3 separate regions of the Homo sapiens genome follow, and all the other regions are linked to region 3. Evidence: fine-mapped expression QTL. A gene starts in region 3. Each other region holds a variant in brackets. All regions are shown on one strand. Distances are between the middles of the regions.

Region 1 (4,224 bases), 72 kb before region 3:
TTTCAACATATTTGTCATTTCTTTTTTTTTTTTTTTTTTTTTTTTGAGACGGAGTCTTGCTCTGTTGCCCAGGCAGTGGTGTGATCTTGGCTCACTGCAACCTCCTCCTCCCAGTTTCAAGCAATTTTCCTGCCTCAGCCTCCTGAGTAGCTGGGATTACAGGCACCCGCCACCACGCCTGGCTAATTTTTTTTTTTTTGTATTTTTTAGTAGAGACGGTGTTTCATCGTGTTGGCCAGGCTTGTCTTAAATTCCTGACCTCAGGAGATCCACTAGCCTTGGCCTCCCAAAGTGCTGGGATTATAGGCGTGTGTTGCTGTGCCTGGCCTGTTATGTGTATTTTATTACAATAAAAAATTGGGGAAAACATTTTCAAAGGGCAGTGTAAAAATAAATAGTTTATGTGTGTAGCTCTTTTTTCTCCTACCTGATTTAAAAGACAACTGCAGAGAGTGATGATTAGACATCTGTGCTGGTAGTCAAATGATGTGTAAACATTTAAATTATATGACAGTGATAGCACAGAGGAGGAGGAGGGAACAGAGCTATATATGCGCAAAGTTTTTGTATACCATTGACATTAAATTATAATTAATCTGAGATCAGTTGTTATAAATTAAGATATTAATTGTAATCCCTAGGGCATCTGCTAAAAAGACACCTTAAAAGGTATAGTAAAAGAAATGACAGAGCAAGACTTTGCCTCAAAAAAAAGATACATATAACATAAAATTTACCATCTTAGCCATTTTAAAGTGTACAGTTGAGTGGCATTAAAAACATTCATCATGTATAAACGTCACCCCATCCATCTCCATAACACTTCATCTTGTGAAACTGAAACTGTGCACTCATTAAACAACAACTCCCCATTTCTGCTCCCCCCAGCTTCTGGCAACCACCAATCTGCTGTCTGTCTCTCTGAATGTGACTATTCTAAGTACCTCATCTAAGTGGAATGACACAATCTTTGTGTTTTGTGACTGGCTTATTTTACTTAGCATAATGTCCTCAAGGGTGATCCATATTATAGCATATGTCCTTCCTTTGTAAGGTGAAATTTCCTTTCTTTCTAAGGCTAAATAATATTCTGCTTATCTGTTTGTTCATTGGTAGGCACTTGAACTGATTTTGCATTTTAGCTGTTGTGAATAACGCTGCTATGAACTTGAGTATACAAATATATTTTCAAGACCCTGATTTCCATTATTTTGGGTATATACCCACAGTTGCAATGTGGGATCATACAGTCATTCTATTTCTAATTTTTTGAGGAACTCTTATCGTGTTTTTCATAGGAACTGTGTCATTTTATATTCCCATCAATAGTTCTCCAGGGTTCCAGATTCTCCACATCCTTGCCAATACTTGTTATTTTGGGGTTTTTTTGATAGTAGTCATCTTAATGGGTGTGAGGTGATGTCCTATTATAGTTTTAATTTGCATTTCCTCAGTAATAAATGATGTTGGGAATCTCTTCATTTGCTTATTGACCATTTGTAGATCATCTTTGGAGAGATGTCTATTCATGTCCTCTGCCCATTTTTAAATTGAGTTTTTTGTCTTAGAGTTTTAGGAGTTCTCTATATATTCTGGATATTAGTGCCTTATCAGATAAATGATTTGTAAATATTTTCTCCCATCAGCTGGGTGCAGTGGCTCACACCTGTAATCCCAGCACTTTGGGAGGCCGAGGTGGGTGGATCACCTGAGCTCAGGAGTTTGAGACCAGCCTGGGCAACACAGTGAAACCCCGTCTCTACTAAAATACAAAAAATTAGCCGGGCACGGCAGCATGCGCCTGCAATCCCAGCTACTTGGGAGGTTGAGACAGGAGAATTGCTGGAACCCGAGAGGCAGAAGTTGCAGTGAGCCAAGATTGCACCACTGCACCCCAGCCTGGGTGACAGAGGGAGACTCCATCTCAAAAAAAAAAAAAACATTTTCTCCCATCTTTTGAGTTGCCCCTTTACTCTGTTGATGTTGCCTTTTTTTTTTTTTTTTGAGACGGAGTCTCGCTCTGTCACCCAAGCTGGAGTATAGTGGCCCGATCTCAGCTCACTGCAAGC[T/C]CCGCCTCCCAGGTTCACACCATTCTCCTGCCTCAGCCTCCTGAGTAGCTGGGACTACAGGCGCCCACCACCACGCCCGGCTAATTTTTTGTATTTTTAGTAGAGATGGGGTTTCACCGTGTTAGCCAGGATGGTCTCGATCTCCTGACCTCGTGATCCGCCCGCCTCGGCCTCCCAAAGTGCTGGGATTACAGGCGTGAGCCACCACGCCCGGCCAGATGTTGCCTTTTGATACACAAATATTCTAATTTTCATGACGTCCACTTTGTCTATTTTCTTCTTTTGTTGCCCATGTTTTTGGTGTCATATCCAATAAATCATTGTAAAATCTGAAGTTGTACAGCTTTGTCTTATGTTTTCTTTTAAGAAGTTTATAGTTTTAGGTATTACATTTAGGTCTTTAATCAGTTTTGAGTTAATTTTTGCATACAGTGTCAGGCAAAAGGTCCAACTTCATTCTTTTTTTTTTTGGAGATGGAGTCTCACTCTGCTGCCGAGGCTGGAGTGCAGTGACGCGATCTCAGCTCACTGCAATGTCCGCCTCCCAGGTTCAAGAAATTCTCCTGCCTCAGCCTCCCAAGTGGCTGGGATTACAGGCATGTGCTACCATGCCTGGCTAATTTTTGTATTTTTAATAGAGACGGGGTTTCACCATGTTGGCCAGGCTGGTGTGGAACTCCCGACCTCAGGTGATCCGCTCGCCTCAGCCTCCCAAAGTGCTGGGATCACAGGCTTGACCAACTTCATTCTTTTGCATGTGGATGTCCAGGTTTTCCAACACCATTTGTCAAAAAGACTATTCTGGCCGGGCATGGTGGATTATGCCTGTAATCCCAGCACTTTGGGAGGCCGAGGTGGGCAGATCACTTGAGGTAAGGAGTTCAAGACCAGCCTGGCCAATGTGGCAAAACCCAGTCTGTATTAAAAATACAAAAAAGAAATTAGCCAGGGGTGGTGGTGCACATCTGTAATCCCAACTAGTCGGGTGGCTAAAGGAGAATTGCTTGAACCCAGGAGACGGAGGCTGCAGTGAGCCGAGATTGTGCCACTGCACTCCAGCCTGAGCAACAGAGTGAGATTGTGTCAAAAGAAAAAGAAAAAAGACTATAAGACTATTATTTCTCCCATTGAATGGTCTTGGCACTTTTGTCAAAAATCATCTGGCCATATATGTGAGAGTTTATTTCTGGCATAAAGATAGAGCATAGCTTATTGCTTATTGTATTCTTTTTTTTTTTTTTTGAGACAGAGTCTTGCACTGTCGCCCAAGCTGGAGTGCAGTGGCAAGATCTCGGCTCACTGCAACCTCCGCTTCCTGGGTTCAAGTGATTCTCCTGCCTCAGCCTCCCAAGTAGCTGGGATTACTGGCACACACTATGACACCCGGCTAATTTTTTAAATTTTTGTTTAGTAGAGACGGGTTTCACTATGTTGACCAGACTGGTCATGAACTCCTGACCTCGTGATCTGCCTGCCTCAGCCTCCCAAAGTGTTGGGATTACAGGCATGAGCCACCGTGCCTGGCCAGCTTATTGTATTCTTGATTACTGGAACCTTGTAGTAAATTTACTAGATTATTAGATTTTGATTACTACAGCTTTGTAGGAGATTTTGAAATCAGGAAGTGTGAGTCCCCCAGCTTTGTTCTTCTTTTAAAGATTATTTTGGCTACTTGCGGTCCCTTCAGAGCCCATGTGAATTTTAGAGTGGTTTTTTCTGCTGCTCTCTTTCGGTTTTGGTTTGCTTGGAATCCCTTTTTTCACCCTTTCCCTTTCAGTGTACTTGTGTCTTTGAATTTAAATCAAGATTTTTGTAGACAGCATTGAGCTGAATTATGTGTGTGTATTCATTCTGCCAATCTCTGTCTTTTGAGTAGAGAGTTTAATTCATTTTCATTTAAAGTAATTACTGGCCAGTTGCAGTGGCTCATGCCTGCAACCCCAGCACTTTGGGAGACTGAGGTGGGTGAATCACTTGAGCTCAGGAGTTTGAAACCAGCCTGGGCAACATGGTGAAACCTGGTCTCTACGAAAAATTAGCTGGGCATGGTGGTATGCACCTGTAGTCTCAGCTACTTGGGAGGCTGAGGTGGAGAATCACCTGAGCCTGAGAGGCTGAGGCTGCACTGAGCCATGATCTTGCCACTGTACTCTAG
Region 2 (4,224 bases), 21 kb before region 3:
GTATCGCAACAAGGATGCATATTATTACCAAGGTAATCAATAAAAGAATACTGTACTAAAAGAATGCATAACTAATATGCTAATAGAGAAAAATGGAAAAAAAAAACTTGATTAATCCAAAGAACGGCAAGAAAGGAATAAAGGAACAAGGAACAAATAGGACAAATGAAAAACAAATAGCAATATGGTAGACTTAAACCTAAATATATTTTACACTATATGAAGTGCAAATGGGCAAAACACTCCAATTAAAAGACCAAGATTGTCAGACTAGATTAAAAAAACAAAAAATAAAGAACAGCTATTTCCAAAAGAAAACTTTAAATATCAGAAAGACTGAAAGTAAAAGAATAGAAAAAGACATACCACGCAAATAAGAACAAAAAGATAGCATAAAATAGACTTTAAGAAAATAAATATTACTGGAGTTACAGGGGTACACAAATCAATGTTGCTTTTAATAACAAAAAGATGTTTAGGGGGTGTTTCCTACTCAGCTGTTATGAACCTTATTTAGAAGAATGAGGCCAGGCACAGTGGCTCACGCCTATAATCCCAGCATTTTGGGATGCCGAGGTGGGTGGATCACCTGAGGTCAGGAGTTTGAGACCAGCCTGGCCATCATGGTGAAACTCCCATCTCTACTAAAAATGCAAAAATTAGCCAGGCATGGTGGTGGGCAACTGTAATCCCAGCTACTCAGGAGGCTGAGGTGGGAGAATTGCTTGAACCTAGGAGGTGGAGGCTGCAGTGAGCTGAGATGGTGCCACTGCACTCCAGCCTGAGCAACAGAGCGAGACTCTGTCTAAACAAACAAACAAACAAACAAACAAAAAACAAGAAAAAGAAAGTAAGTTCAAGAGAGATAGAGAGATGACCTTAGAGCCAGTCATCAAAATCTACCTAAAAGTTTGTTTTTTCTCATTAGGACTAAAAATAGTCTGCAAGAGATTGATATTCCATCTTCCCCAAGTGGAGGTAGCCGAGACTACTTAGGATAGAAAACAGGCTTTGTCGACAAAAACACAAGCTATGACATCCACCTTAATTGCCTAATAGCTGGGTGACTGAGTCTGTTTCCTTCTCTGTAAACTGAAGATAACATGAGCCTTGGAGCAGCAGAGCACTTGGCACACCCTTGACATGTTGCAGGTGCTCTGTCGGTGTGGGTTCCCACCCTCTCTTCCCCTTGGCCTCTGGGTAGCTTAAGACTACTAGAGACGCAGGTGTGGCTCTGACTCTGGCTCAAAGCTCTCTCTGAAAGAAAGAGAAGCTGCTTCAGAAGCAGAGAAAGGCCTGCATTCCCCAACTGGACACTGAGAGGGGGAAGATACAGGGCTTGCGCATCTGCCAACGGTGCCAGCTGACAAACCTGGGGTAAGAAATCCTTGCCCTGTAAACTTACTTGGAAATTCCTAAGCCAAATATATTCTGTATTTTTTATCTTGTTTCTCTTAGTCCTTCTTATTAATGTCCCTTAACAATAAATTCAATTGTCTTGAATTAAAAAAAAACGGATAAAGCAACTTTGATGGTAAATTTAAGAGGTAGAGATGAGAGGAACAGGGAGGGAAGACGCTGGTGGTGGGTAACTGTGTACGTTCTTCCCACCTGCCTAGTGAGTTTCAGTTTTTTTGTTTTTGTTTTTTTATTCTTTTGAGACGGAGTCTCGCTCTGTCACCCAGGCTAAAGTGCAGTGGTGCAATCTTGGCTCACTGCAGCCTCCCCCTCCCGGGTTCAAGCAATTCTTCTGCCTCAGCCTCCCTAGTAGCTGGGATTACAGGCATGTACCACCATGCTCAGCTAATTTTTGTATTTTTTTAGAGACAGGGTTTCACCATGTTGGCCAGGCTAGTCTCAAACTCCTGACCTCAGGTGATCTGCCCACCTTGGCCTCCCAAAGTGCTGGGATTACAGGCGTGAGACACCGTGTCTGGCCAAGTTTTAGTTTTAAAGCCTTTAAAGCCACTTGCTTTCTAGTCCTTGGTGCACTTTAAAAAAAAAAATGTGTTAGTCCCTTATAAAAAGCAGGGACTGTTAAAAAGGGAGAATCACCATGAAGCACAGTGATCATAATGCAGCAGACTGTTCATAAAATGTTTACAATTCAAAACTAATCAGCGAAAACATGTGCTCCTGGATGCTCCCTTTCAAAGGGTCTCCTGATCTCAAGCATTCTGCAAAACACCCGTAGTTTTGTCTATTTTTCAAAGTACAAGTCTTAGCGACTAGACAGGGAAGACGAGGGC[G/A]AGTTCAATGGGGGTCATCATCCATCATTCCACTGGGGCAAACAGACCGCACTCCTGTCTTCACGGGAGGCCTCACCGCCTCTCTGGATTGTCTTGGGTTGGGTGCTCCACAAAGCAGACCCTGAGCCAAGGATTCAAGTGCAAGTGATTTGTTAAGGAAATGCTCCCAGGAGAAGGGAGAGGAAGAGGCCAAGCAAGGGCATTATTTCAGGTTAACCCCAGACTCATCCCAAGCCCTGGAGGAGCCCAGGAGCATGAGATAACTACAGATCCAGCAATTCTGCTCCTAGATCCATACTCAGAACAACTAAAAGCCGGGACTGAGATACTTATGTATCAATGCTCACAGCAGCCAGAAAGTGTGCATCAACAAATGCATGGATAAACAAATGTGGTCCATCCATACAATGGAATATCATTCGGCCATAAAATGAAGGAAATTCTGTTACATGCCACAACACAGATGAACCTTGGAAATATTATGGTAAGTGAAATAAGCCAGACACAAAAAGAGAAATACCGTATGATACTACATGTAAGGGACCTAGAGGAGTCAAATCCATAGAGCCACATAGAGACTCTTGGGAGTCAGGGGGATGGGAGTTATTGCTTAAGTGGGTAGACTTTCTGCTCAGGAAGATGAGAACATTCTGGAAATGGATGGTAGTGATGGTTACACAACAACGTGGCTATACTTAATGTCACTGAATTGTATACTTAAAATGGTTAAAATGGTAAATTTTCTGTTACGTATATTTTACCACACTTTTTAAAAACATTTTTTAAAAATCTGGGTAAGGGCCAGATGCGGTGGCTCACGCCTGTAATCCCAGGACTTTGGGAGGCTGAGGTGGGCAGATCACGAGGTCAGGAGATTGAGACCATCCTGGTTAACATGGTGAAACCCTGTCTCTAAAAATACAAAGAAAAATTAGCCGGGCGTGGTGGTGGGCGCCTGTAGTACCAGCTACTCAGGAGGCTGAGGCAAGAGAATGGCGTGAACCTGGGAGGCGGAGCTTGCAGTGAGCCGAGATTGCGCCACTGCACTCCAACCTGGGTGACAGAGCAAGACGCCGTCTCAAAAAACAGTAATAAAATAAAATCTGGATAAGATATGCCACAGCTTGTTCCACCTCCAGGCAAAGGAGCCGGGCATTTGTACTCACATCCCATTCGTTGGCACTGGCTCAGGCTGAGGAGGCACAGACCTCAACTCAGGCTCTTCCTGTCCTCTGTGCAGGGTATGGCTCCAGCACCCAAGGCCTCCTTTAAGGCCACAAGCTGCAGTCAAGCATGCCAAAGCCAGGGGTGGCTAAGAGAGCAGGAAGGGACCTTACGGGCAAGGGGTCATCAGCAGTGCCCACTACAGCCCTGTGGGCCCAAGTCACGGCAACTGTCTTCTCTGTGGCCAAGGCAAAGTGCTCTCACCCCAGGAGTGTTGCTGATACCTGGCCTTACCACAGGCCGTTTGCTAATACTCATGGTGTCTAAAGATGCTGACTTGGGGGAAGTGTCTGCCCTTTCAATCGTTTCTCTTTGGTGATGAAAAATGACACACATCTAAGAATAAATGTAAGGTAAATGTGCATAATGTCTACATTGAAAACAACCAACCAGTCACAGAGGGCTATCCCGTATTCACAGGATAGAAAAATGGGCAGGAGATTAAGAGGCTTCACACGAGAGGAGACCTGAATGGCCAGGAAGTGGATGAGAAGGTGCTTGAGTTTGTTAATCATCAGGAAAAACATAAAGCAAAGCCCACTGGGATGTGACTACACACTCACCAAATGCCAAAATGAACAAAACAGAAAATAAGCATACACGTGGATGTGGAGCTCCCACACACTGTGGGCTGTGAGCAGGCACCACCGTTTCCCACCTACCGAAGCTGAACGTGGGCACACCCCATGACCGGGTAAACAGGAACTGTCCAACACAAATGCACGCATTGGCTCACAAGACATGCACGAGA
Region 3 (4,224 bases):
CCTGTGCCTAACGAAGTCCCCAGTAGCACAGGGTGTGAGCTTGCAGAATGAATAAATGCTTCCAAATGCATCCCATGTATTTGTAGAGGCTCACGTATGCTCACTTTCCAAATCACAATTTTATTCTTATGACATTAGGTGCTTTTTGAGTCACTACACTAAGTGGATATTGGTCAGATATGGGCTTAAATCTCAACTACCTGTCAGTAATCTGTGTCATCTCTAAGCTTCAGTTTCCTTAACAGGAAGATAAGGACAGGTGTGACAAGCAAATAAGGCATGCAAGTGCTTGGCCTAATGCCTGGCATAAAGGCTGGACTCAAATGATGAAATCTACCACTATTGGGTAATATTCGCTTTGCCTGATGGTAGCAAATAAAATATACGAATAGGTCAAATTCCTGATATTTTACACCAAAATACAAAACCATCTTTTATAAGGTTGATTTTTACTCTCTTATACTTGGCTAAGCAACAGATTCTGGTTTAGAAAAGCAGACTGCACGGATACGTTGGTGTAAGATATTAATTGGGTAATATTAAATACCTTGAATGCCCACAACAACCCTCCCCTCAAAATCGTGAGTTAAGTACTTTATGACACTAAACCTACTTCTTTTCCGCATAGGACCGTGAAGAAAATTTTCGAACGACCAGTGAAGATACAAATAGCAATGTTTTATGGTGGGCTTTTGCACAAATATTAATCTTTATCTCAGTCGGAATTTTCCAAATGAAGTACCTGAAAGACTTCTTTATAGCTAAGAAGATTGTTTAAAATATTATCAATAAGGACAAATAATCTGCATAATGTTTGAGTTAATAAATCAAAATACCTGCATATATGTGTATTATTTTTATGATTTCAAAGATACCAGAGATTGAGATTAACGTTATATCATTATAACATTGAGAGAATGCTTTTATAATGCAGCTTCTGAATTTGATAGATTAGGCACCTCATCCTATTCTTAAACTTATTTTTGAGACTGAGTCTCGCTCTGCTGCACAGGTGCCGTCAGGCTCACCACAGGCTCGATCTCCAGGGCCCAAGCAATCCTCCCACCTCAGCCTCCCGAGTAGCTGGGACCCCAGGGGCCCACCACCACACCCAGCTAATTTTTGTATTTTTTGTAGAGACGGGGTTTTGCCACGTTGCTGGTCTTGCTATTTTAAACTTGGTAGAGATCAGCACTGTCTAACAGAAATAAAAGTGGGCTACATACATAATTCTAATTTGCTGTTGTTGTTGTTGAGACGAAGTCTCACTCTGTTGCCCAGGCTGGAGTGCAGTGGTGTGATTTCGGCTCACTGCAACCTCCGCCTCGTTCAAGCGATTCTCCTGCCTCAGCCTCCGGAGTAGCTGGGATTACAGGCGTGAGCTACCGCACCCAGCCCATACGTAATTCTAAGTTTTCTAGTCTCCACATTGAAAAGGATTTTTTGAAAGGGTAAAATCAACGCTACTGATATATATTTAACCTAATATATCAAAAATATCATGTTAACATGTAATCAATATAAAATTACTAAGAAGGTTTTCATACGAGGCCCTGGAAACAGCTGTATTTTACTCACATCTTTCGGGGCGCAGGGGTCACTTGGCCCGTAGCTACCGGGAGCGCTCACCCTGCGCTCTCCCGGCACAAGCACTTGCCTGAGCCTCTCGATCCGAGCTTTGCAGCGTCCCAGCGGGTGGAAACTCTCAAAACCACGCAGAGGACAATTTTATAAAAAGTCACTTCCCCATGCTGGAACCTGGAAGCAGCAGAGGTCCTTCCCGAGCTACGCCTTCCGTTTCAGAGGGAAGCAGGCTCAGGCCTCCCGTGCTGAGGTCTCTGCGCCAGCGGCCACCTGGACACTAGTCCCAAAGCGTGCAGCGCGGCCTGGCCCCCACCCCCAACTGCCCCCCCCACCCCCACCGCCTCATCACACCCCACCCCCACCGCCTCACGCCCCCACACCCACCCCAACTCCCACATCCCCACTCCCGCTCCCACCCCAACTCCCACACCCACTTATCCCTCCCTCCCTCCTATCCCGCTCCCCGGGCCCCCAGGGCCCCCACGCCCACTCTCCCCTACTCCTCCCCTGCCTCGCCCAGCGCACTACCCTGGCCGCCCTGGCCTCCGGCCCAGCTCCCGGCCCTCAAGGTGGGCCTGGCCCGCATCCCCCGCCCTCGGCGCTCCCCCTCCCCCTCCCCCACTGCTGTCGCGCCGCGACGCCTCCTCAGCGCAGCCGCCATTCCCCGCGCCCGCCACCCAGGCCCGGCTTCCACAAAACACCTGAGGACCGCCAAGACAGGGGCGGGACGTTGGTGCTCGCGGTGCGTTCCTCCGCCTACTCCAGCCCAAACGACCTGGGAGACGAGTCACACGCGCCCTCCCAGGTGCTGCGGGAGAACCCGCGAGGTTGGCGGGAGGGCGCGAGCTCCAGTGCGCGGGCGCAGGGCTGCCGTCGACTTTGCGCAGGCGCAGAGCTGCCCGCCTTCGGGCCCTGCGCGGGGAGGCTGGTCCCAACCTTGCGTGGGCTTCGCGTGGGCCCGGCCTCGCCGCTGCGGTCGCCCGCCTGGCATGGCCAACTGGGTGTTCTGTAATCGCTGCTTCCAGCCGCCCCACAGGACGTCGTGCTTCAGCCTCACCAACTGCGGGCACGTGTACTGCGACGCCTGCCTCGGCAAAGGTCAGGGCTTCCCGAACGCAGGCTGGAGAGGGGAGGGGAGCGGCAAGGGGGTCAGGGAACTCCGGGGGATGGGGGACTTGGGTGGGAGGGCCATGGGGGCACGTGGGGGGCTGCGGAGGAGAGAGGGCGCGTGGAGAAGGGGGAGGGGGCAGGGGGAGGGGGATGCCAGGGGAGAGGCCGCGAGGAGCAGGGGAACTCTGAGGGGAGGGGGACCTGGGGTGGAGGGGCCGCGGGGGCGCGTGGGGGGCCGAGGGGGAGAAACGGCGCATGGAGCGGGGGGGGCATGGGGGGGTGAGAGGCCGCGGAGGTAGGGGTATTCGGAGGAGGGGCCACCGGGGAGTGGGGGCCGCGGGCGTGATGAGGGGCCCGTGGGGAGAGGGGGACACTGGAGAAGCGGTGGGGAGGGAGCGGGGGAGTGAGGGGCTGCGGGAGGGTGGGGAAAGAGGGGACGCCGGAGGTGGTGGGGGGCTGCAGGGAGGAAGGGGACGCCAGAGGAGGGGGGCAAGGTGGGGGATGTGGGGGGTCAAGGCTTGGGGGGGAAGGGGGATACCGAGGAGATGGGGGGAGGGGAGACGCCAGGGGAGGAGGGCGTGGGGGAGGGTCCGCAGGCAGGAAGGGGCCGTGGAGGGGAGGGGCCGCCGGGGGGAGCGGGATGCAAGATGAGGGGGACACAGGGGTCGGGCCACGAGTCCTGTCAGTCGGGGGCTCTGGCTTGCAGGCTGCGGGTCCGCCTGGAGGACCTGGGGGAGAAGCGGGCAGGCGGCAACCTTAACGCCAGTGGAGGACTCTGGCCCTATTCCATGGGCAGCGCGGGGCCCTGGTGTCAAGTGGACAGTCGCATTGTCAGGGAGGCGTTTTTCTTTCTGTGAAAATTTTGTGTTGAACTGATGTTTATGCAAGAACAAAAGCAAAAACACAGTGAGCTTTTACCAAGCGAACTTCCCCGTGAAAGCAGCCAGCTGGGTGCCGGTGGCTCACAGCCCTCCAGCCCCAGGGGACGCCAGCTGTGCTGACCTCCATCCTCGGAGTTGGCCTTAGACCCATGGAGCCTTAGTGAATGCAGCCCTACAACCAGCCCTACAGCAAAGCCGCTTTCTGTGGCTCCCCATCTTTCTTCCTTTTTCTCCCTTCCTTCTCTTTGCCTCTTTCAAGGCAGAGCTCAGCTTTGTCGCCCAGGCTGGAGTTCGGTGGCGGGATCTCGGTTTACTGCAGCCTCCGCCTCCCAGGCTCAAGTGATTCTCCTACCTCAGCCTCCAGGGTAGCGGGGCTACAGGCATGTGCAGCCACGCACCCCTGATTTTTTTAATTTTTCACAGAGATGGGGTCCCTTTGTTGCCCAGGATGGTCTCCAATTCCTGTCCTCTAACAATCACCGGCCTTGGCCTCCCGAAATGTGGGATTAGCAAAGTTTATCATTGTATTTGTATGTAACTGTAGTTCATCTACTTTCATTGTTGTGTGGTGTTCCATTGTATGGATACACCCCAAGTTACTCATCGTTTCCACTGTCCATGGCCCTTTGGGTTGTTTGCAGATTTGGCT

The links. PIP is the estimated chance that this variant, and not a neighbour inherited with it, causes the effect. A credible set is the group of variants that fine-mapping cannot tell apart.
Region 1: its variant is the best candidate, but not a certain one, in a credible set for the expression of RNF212 in subcutaneous fat (GTEx, PIP 0.84).
Region 2: its variant is the best candidate, but not a certain one, in a credible set for the expression of RNF212 in esophagus muscle (GTEx, PIP 0.76).

What each region holds. Positions count from the first base shown.
Region 1 is chr4:1,184,024-1,188,247 of GRCh38, reverse strand. All of the region lies in intron 1 of LOC124900647 (nascent polypeptide-associated complex subunit alpha, muscle-specific form-like), which reads right to left. It also overlaps a transcript of SPON2 not described here. Among named protein-coding and RNA genes, the nearest start is that of SPON2, 14 kb to the right of the region's middle. The variant T/C (reference allele first, on the strand shown) is at 2,070.
Region 2 is chr4:1,133,163-1,137,386 of GRCh38, reverse strand. All of the region lies in intron 1 of LOC124900647 (nascent polypeptide-associated complex subunit alpha, muscle-specific form-like), which reads right to left. Among named protein-coding and RNA genes, the nearest start is that of RNF212, 22 kb to the right of the region's middle. The variant G/A (reference allele first, on the strand shown) is at 2,250.
Region 3 is chr4:1,111,814-1,116,037 of GRCh38, reverse strand. It overlaps RNF212 (ring finger protein 212), which reads left to right and starts at 2,474. Exons shown (of 10, transcript NM_001131034.4): 1 at 2,474-2,682. The coding sequence starts at 2,574. It overlaps LOC124900647 (nascent polypeptide-associated complex subunit alpha, muscle-specific form-like), which reads right to left and starts at 2,399. Exons shown (of 3, transcript XM_047416477.1): 1 at 2,286-2,399. LOC105374344 (a long non-coding RNA gene) reads right to left here and starts at 2,399. Exons shown (of 3, transcript NR_134676.1): 1 at 2,286-2,399. It also overlaps the pseudogene TMED11P.